Linked DNA regions of Homo sapiens. The protein of the gene in region 2 interacts with the protein of the main gene of each other region in a biochemical or structural test. Each region holds a gene or a part of one and is shown on either strand. Other genes may lie near its edges.

Evidence for each region. The genes of interacting proteins can lie anywhere in the genome.
Region 1: the proteins of RHOC (region 2) and ANTXR1 form a complex in vitro, tested with the Homo sapiens proteins (one study listed by BioGRID).

Annotation. Positions count from the first base shown.
Region 1 is NC_000002.12:69,180,494-69,184,219, reverse strand, and holds part of ANTXR1 (anthrax toxin receptor 1 isoform 1 precursor), read right to left. Parts: intron 2,435-3,726; coding exon 2,339-2,434; intron 1,728-2,338; coding exon 1,560-1,727; intron 1-1,559. UniProt on the Homo sapiens protein: Plays a role in cell attachment and migration. Interacts with extracellular matrix proteins and with the actin cytoskeleton and thereby plays an important role in normal extracellular matrix (ECM) homeostasis.
Region 2 is NC_000001.11:112,700,631-112,704,127, reverse strand, and holds the end of RHOC (rho-related GTP-binding protein RhoC precursor), read left to right. Parts: intron 1-321; 5' UTR 322-328; coding exon 329-484; intron 485-1,008; coding exon 1,009-1,129; intron 1,130-1,434; coding exon 1,435-1,565; intron 1,566-2,414; coding exon 2,415-2,588; 3' UTR 2,589-2,997; downstream 2,998-3,497. UniProt on the Homo sapiens protein: Regulates a signal transduction pathway linking plasma membrane receptors to the assembly of focal adhesions and actin stress fibers.

The DNA.
Region 1 (3,726 bases), on a different chromosome or scaffold from region 2:
CCACCAATAACGTTTCGCTACACTGCCTGAAATGGTACTTCTTTTGATTTGTTGGAGAAGCCCTGATCCAAAATTAGCAAATTAACTCAGCGAATGATGAAAATAATCTTTGTTGCTATTGGAAGGGGGGTAAGGCTGTGTGTGTGTGTGTGTGTGAGTGTGTGTATGTGTATGGATGGTGATGGGAGCTGGCTCTATTGAGTCTTTGACTTGAGGCTTTGGAGTTGGTTCGGTTCTGTTTGCAGCTTGAAACTGGAGTCTGTAGCCCTGAGTTGGGGGCCTTGTTTTCCAGACCTCAGCAGAACAAGGACTTTGCCTATCTCAGTATGAAATCAGAGAGTGGGGACAGATTATGTCTAGAGTCTTTTCAGCTATAATTTTCCAGTGCTCTCTGACAAGTGGCATAGTGCAGATGTTTATGGGCATGGCTAAAGATTGAAGGTGTTAACTGAATCATGTGAATTCAAAGCCATTTGGACCAAGAAGAATAGAAAAGAGGCCTTCAGGCTGGGCATGGTGGCCCATGCCTGTAATCTTAGCACTTTGGGAGGCCGAGGTGGGCAGACTGCTTTATCAGGAGTGCAAGACAGGCCTGGGCAACATAGTGAAATCCGTCCCTCAAAAAAAAAAAAAAAAAAAAAAAAACAAAAATTAGCTGGGTGTGGTGGTGCGTGCCCGTAGTCCCAGCTACTTGGGGGTTGAGGTGGGAGGATGGCTTGAGCCTGGGAGGTCGAGGTTGCAGTGAGCAGAGATCACACAACTGCACTCCAGCCTGGGTGACAGAGTGAGAACCTGTCTCAAAAAATAAATAAATAGAAAATAAAAAAGAGGCCTTTAGGAAACATTAACTGCCTCCAACGGTTTACACTTCCCAATAAACCAAAGAGGATTTTAAGATCTGGAGGTGTGGGGGAAAGACAGATGGTGGAGAAAAAAGATTTGCTTACAACCAGAAAGAGTGAGTCCTAGATCCATGACCAGTGAGATTTGCTGGTGGGCCCTGATACACTGGCAGGAGGCGCAAATAAAAGGGAATGGGCTTATATTATGGCAAAAGGAGTAGAGATTAGCATTAAGGAGAAGGCTGCCATTTTTCTTAGATAGTAGATTGTCTGCTAAGTGAAGTTATGAGATGCTATGGAAATTTATAGTCACTCTCTGGGGTTACTACCCAAGTTACTTGACTCACAGTCCATGCTTTTTCCAGTACCTTGCCATGGTGATTTTTTTTTTTTTTTTAATATGGAACACTTCACGAATTTGCATGTCATCCTTGCCCAGGGGTCATGCTAATCTTCTCTATATTGTTCCAGTTTTACTATATGTGCTGCAGAAGTGAGCACCACGGTGATTTTTAAAAAGCCTAGTTTTCAACCCAGATTATGTGGAAATTGACAAAGTAATTACTAGTACTTTCAAGTCCATAATTTTAGATAATTGTTCCCCTGTGATAAGCTGGGTTTTAGGTTGGGATTTTATCATGTGGAAAGATTTTGATTCTTCACTATGTAAGTGTTTTATCAGGACTGATGATAGATTTTTTGAGTAAAGAGACACACCTTGATTGGAGAGTACCACTTCCGGGGGGAAGAAGGCCGACGCATATTGTTGTTGAGATTTCGCGGCTCAGGGAATTCATATTCCTGCTCCGGCATCTTGACTCTTGCATTCTTTGCCTTTTCCAACTTAGCACCTTCTTCTGTGGAGCCCTTTTCTCCCCAACGAACCTAAAATAAACAAAATACAATGAAATGAAATGACAAAATATGCTGCCCCTCGAGAATGAGAATGACAAATACATGCATGAGTTGCAATGTGAATGCTACCCAACCCTGGATTCCTTTGGGTTTTGAGGGCCAGGGAAGAGGGAAACTGTGGAAAAAGAGAAAAGGGGAGGACCAAAGGAGCAGAGAGCTGAGCCACATGGGTGGATATTTAGGGAGGAATTGTCCAGGCAGCGGGGACAGCACATGCAAAGACCTTGCAGGTTCAGGTACGAACTTTGGATTTTATTCCAGTGAGAAAAGAAATCACGAGGACGTTTGAGCTGATGTGTGACCTGCTCTGACTCACGGTGGGCAAGACATGGAAACGCACAGTGAAAGGCTGTCCCTCCTATCTCTCCATCCGTCTGCCTTACAATCCATATCCCCACCAGACCTCAAGGAGGTTTTCAGCAATTTGCTTTGGGTTTCTGACATTGAGTCATCAGTGTGGTCTACGGCCATACTGCCCTGGGCATGCCTGATATCTAGAGGCTAAGCAGGGTCAGGCCCGGCTGGTACCTCGATGGGAGTAGTCAGCACATAGATAAGTGTATATGAAGCTGTCCTCTTACCTCCATTCTTTTAATGCCTCCAACGCCTCTCCCACCATAATAAGAGGCGTCTACCGTTGGCCACTTTTTCTTAGGCAGACCATCATCATCTTCTTCCTGCAGAGAAATTGTGGCACATGAAGGAAGCAAAACAGCACTGCTGTGTGGACCTGCCTACTACAGCCAAGTGATTAGGAGTAGAGCTTATAGAGTCAGACTGCCTGGGTGCAATCCCAGTGCTACTGTTTCCTAGAACCTTGGGCCAATCACTGAAACCACCTAAGCTTGTTTTCCTTATCTGTAGAGTGGGAATGTAAGCAGTGCTACCTGGTAAGTTTGTGGTACAGTCCTGTTCTCTTGTTCTCTTCTACAGCTCTACTCCTTTGTGGGAATCGCATCTAACCCCACCTACATGCTAATGACTTGTGACTTTACATCTTCAGCCCTGATGCTTCTGAACTCCAACTGCTCACTTGACATTCACATTATTTGGGGGCTAAAAAACATCTCAACAACACCACAGCAGAGATGTCCTGATTTCCCTACCCTAAACATGCTCCTCCTGTAGTCTTCCCCACTGCCTCTCTCTTCTTTACTGCCTCTCCCCAACTTGTCCCAACTTGCCAGCTAGTTCTGTTGCTACTACTTAAAGATCTAAAATCTGTTGACTTCTCCATCCCCACCACCACTATCCTGGGCCCAAGCCCCCATGCACTTGCTCATGGACACTGTGGTAGCTTCCCAACTGGCCTCCTGCTGCCCTAAGACTCACCTATGATCTGTTCTCCACAAAGCAGCAGAGTAAGTGCAAACGCCAGCTCTGCCCTGTGTGTTCTGGCCTTTGCTCACCTTTCTGGCCTTCTTCCTTATCATGTGCCCCCCTCCTCCTGAGCTCCAGCCTGCCTGCCCTCTCTCAAATACTCTGGGCAAATTCCTGTCTTGGGGCCTGTGCACAGTGTCCCCTTGTCCCCTTGTCTAGGAAAGCACTTCCCCCACCCCATCTTCTGATGGATGGATTTTCATATTACTCCTCAGAGAAACCTCCCCTGGAAATTTCTTCTAAAGTAGCCGCGGTCTCTTCATTCCATCAATCTGTTTTATTTTTAGTTAAGGATCTCATCATGGCTTGATATTTACTTAATATCTGTCTCTCCACACTAGAACGTACGTTCCACAGAGGCTTTTGTTTGTCATGCTTACAATTGTATTCCCAGTCTTTAGAATAGCACTATGTTGTATGTGGTGGGTGCCCAAGAATTATCTGTTGAATTTACAAATAAGTTAAATAAGATGACTCAAATAAAGCAGTTAATTAAGTGTCTGCAACTTAGCTCAGTGACAAGAAGTTAGTGTTTATATTTTTTAAGATGAAGAAAGAAGATGAGGAACTTGTAACTGTGGATGGAAAA
Region 2 (3,497 bases):
TGAGCAGCTCTCTAGCTACCTGGAGTCCCCAGGTTGGCAAGTGGATTAGATTGAAACTCATGTTTTCCAGCTCCCAAGTGGGGTCATCATCTACCTCCCACCACTGTATTCTAACCCATCGAGGGAGACCTGTCCCTGACCCAGAGATTAGGAATTTCAAGCTCTGTTGTCGCACAATTGGTGTTTTGCCAGAACATGCCTGAGCAAGCCCCCTGTCCCTTTGCTAGATGCCTCGGTTTCCAGGGAGGTTTGGGGGCCCTAGAGAAGTGTTTTTGGACTTAATGGCTTTTCCTCAAATCCCCAATACGTCTTTCCTGGCAGCCCCACCATGGCTGCAATCCGAAAGAAGCTGGTGATCGTTGGGGATGGTGCCTGTGGGAAGACCTGCCTCCTCATCGTCTTCAGCAAGGATCAGTTTCCGGAGGTCTACGTCCCTACTGTCTTTGAGAACTATATTGCGGACATTGAGGTGGACGGCAAGCAGGTGAAGGCAGAAATGCCCTTCCCACCCCACCCTGAGACCCCGCCCCCCAGTCACTGAATGACCTAGTATGTCCTTCCCCATTCCTACCCCTGTCTTTGCTTCATTCTCCCTGCTGGAACCAGTAAAAGTTAGGAAGTAAATCTGCAGTCTTAAAAAACCTGGATATACTTTCTGGTTCTCCCACAGACTGGCTCTGTAACCTGGGCCGAGTCCCTTTGCCTCTGGGTTTAAGCTCCCCCACCTGCAAAATGGGGATGATGGTAAGACCTCCCTCAAAGGGTTGTTGTGAGAATTAACCAAAATAATGGTGCTCACAGTGGCAACTCAAGGGTCAAACACGTCTTAGATTTCTTTAACAAACTGACCTAATTTATGTTGTGGGACAGTGATTAATATAATGCCTGGTGCATAGCAGGTGCTCAAATAAAGAAGTTCAGTGAGCCCGAAGGACAGTGGTTTCAGGGGACCTTTGGGTGGCAGGGTTGGGGCCCTCAGGCCAGCTACTCACTGGCCCTGTGTGTCAGGTGGAGCTGGCTCTGTGGGACACAGCAGGGCAGGAAGACTATGATCGACTGCGGCCTCTCTCCTACCCGGACACTGATGTCATCCTCATGTGCTTCTCCATCGACAGCCCTGACAGCCTGGGTGAGGGGATTGGAGGGAGGGGACTGAGAACCCCTTGGAATCAGCCAGAGGTCTCGTGCCTTGGCCTGTCTTCAGTCATCTTCAGAGGTGGGGGTGGGGATGCAGGGGAGCACTCAGGCCCTGTTGGTCTCCTTTACTGTGGTAACTGGCCCTCTGAGGGCATACTACTGTTGAGGTTTTGAGCTGTGAAAGGGACCATCATGCTGAATGGCTTCTAAGACTGCTCTGGGAAGATGAGGGCCCCCCCAGGGGAGCTTTCTAGCTTAAGTGGAGGCACCGACACCTGTTGGTGCATGTCTACACAGAAAACATTCCTGAGAAGTGGACCCCAGAGGTGAAGCACTTCTGCCCCAACGTGCCCATCATCCTGGTGGGGAATAAGAAGGACCTGAGGCAAGACGAGCACACCAGGAGAGAGCTGGCCAAGATGAAGCAGGTGGGTACGGCTGCCAGGCTGGAGCCCCTGGGGAAGAATGCACCCTCTGAGGGGTTGCAGACGGGCAAAGGGAACTTCTCTCCAGCTACTGCCGTGTGTTAGGGGAAACAGTAATATCTCCTGGTGAGGGAGGACCCATAGGGTTGTGTCTGATGAGGTATCAGAATGAAGTGACTTGTCCAAAGTCACTTGGCATTTTTATTTATTCCAGTTAATTGTCCATTCCGTTCAGAATTGGGACTATTAAGATGATTAAGAAAATCTGCCCTCGGGGAGACAGCTTATGTTTCACTTGGGATACCCAGGCTGTGCCATCAGAGTGCCCCTGGGGGAGGTGTAGGGATGTGGATGCGGGAATGAGGGCAGGCATTGTGTAAGTGGCTGGAAGAAGGGATGTGAGAGCTGGCTTATTCAGGGACCTGTAAGTGGCTCTCTAGCCAGAGGACTAGAGTTTATTAGAGAAAGCTGTCAGGATAAGAAATGCAAAGATAATTATGGCAAAGTTTCAAACTGGGGAGATGTTAGGTCTGTGTGTTAGAAAAATAATTCTGACTGGAAGAGAGTGAGGATGGAGGCAGAGCAGTCAGGAGGTGGGAGACGCTCATTCAGGCAAGAGAACCAGGGGCTGTGTGTGGGAGGAGGTGGGGCTGCATGGGAATGGAGGGAGTAGACTGGAGGGATTTTTGGATCCCTGGCCACGAAGCTGCCCAGGGTAGCTGGGGCCTGGGCGCTTTCTGGGTCAGGGCTGGAGAAGGAGGCATTTGTTCCAGCTGCTACACTTATGGGTGAGGCAGGAGAGGTTCATGTAGTCAACAGCTTCCTTTGACCCCTCATCTTATGTCTTCTCAGGAGCCCGTTCGGTCTGAGGAAGGCCGGGACATGGCGAACCGGATCAGTGCCTTTGGCTACCTTGAGTGCTCAGCCAAGACCAAGGAGGGAGTGCGGGAGGTGTTTGAGATGGCCACTCGGGCTGGCCTCCAGGTCCGCAAGAACAAGCGTCGGAGGGGCTGTCCCATTCTCTGAGATCCCCAAGGCCTTTCCTACATGCCCCCTCCCTTCACAGGGGTACAGAAATTATCCCCCTACAACCCCAGCCTCCTGAGGGCTCCATGCTGAAGGCTCCCATTTTCAGTTCCCTCCTGCCCAGGACTGCATTGTTTTCTAGCCCCGAGGTGGTGGCACGGGCCCTCCCTCCCAGCGCTCTGGGAGCCACGCCTATGCCCTGCCCTTCCTCAGGGCCCCTGGGGATCTTGCCCCCTTTGACCTTCCCCAAAGGATGGTCACACACCAGCACTTTATACACTTCTGGCTCACAGGAAAGTGTCTGCAGTAGGGGACCCAGAGTCCCAGGCCCCTGGAGTTGTTTTCGGCAGGGGCCTTGTCTCTCACTGCATTTGGTCAGGGGGGCATGAATAAAGGCTACAGGCTCCAACGTGTGTGGCAGCTTTCGGTCTTTCCCTCTGGGTGCTTGGTGTCCCATCTCTTTTCATGTCCAAGTTGCTTGCCAGCCTGGCCCCCTGTCTACAAAGCAGGCCAGTGGCCAGCAGGGTGGAGTCTTAGAGCAAAGGATGAGGTCATGCCTGGCTCTGGGCCAAGGAGGCGGGTGAAGGGAGTGGTCTGTAGCAGGGGGCTAAACTTAGAAACCTGTGGGTGGCTTCCCTGCCACCTCCCACTGGGTTTCCTCCCCCGAGTGTGGGGGCTGGGTTCCTCTCCAGCTGGGAGGGGATGTGACCCTCAGCAGGGCTGAAAGTCCCACCCTTCCCTACAGGGTCAGCTTAGGGGCTCAGGAAGCTGGGGCCAGGCAGAGGAGACATTATCAAGGCTTTTGCATAGAACAAGATTTTGTTTTCAGAGTTTTCTTCCTTCCCCTTCCCCCAATTGTTAGCAGCTTGATGTGTCATTCTCCCCAGCAGGGGAGGGGGTGGAATGGCT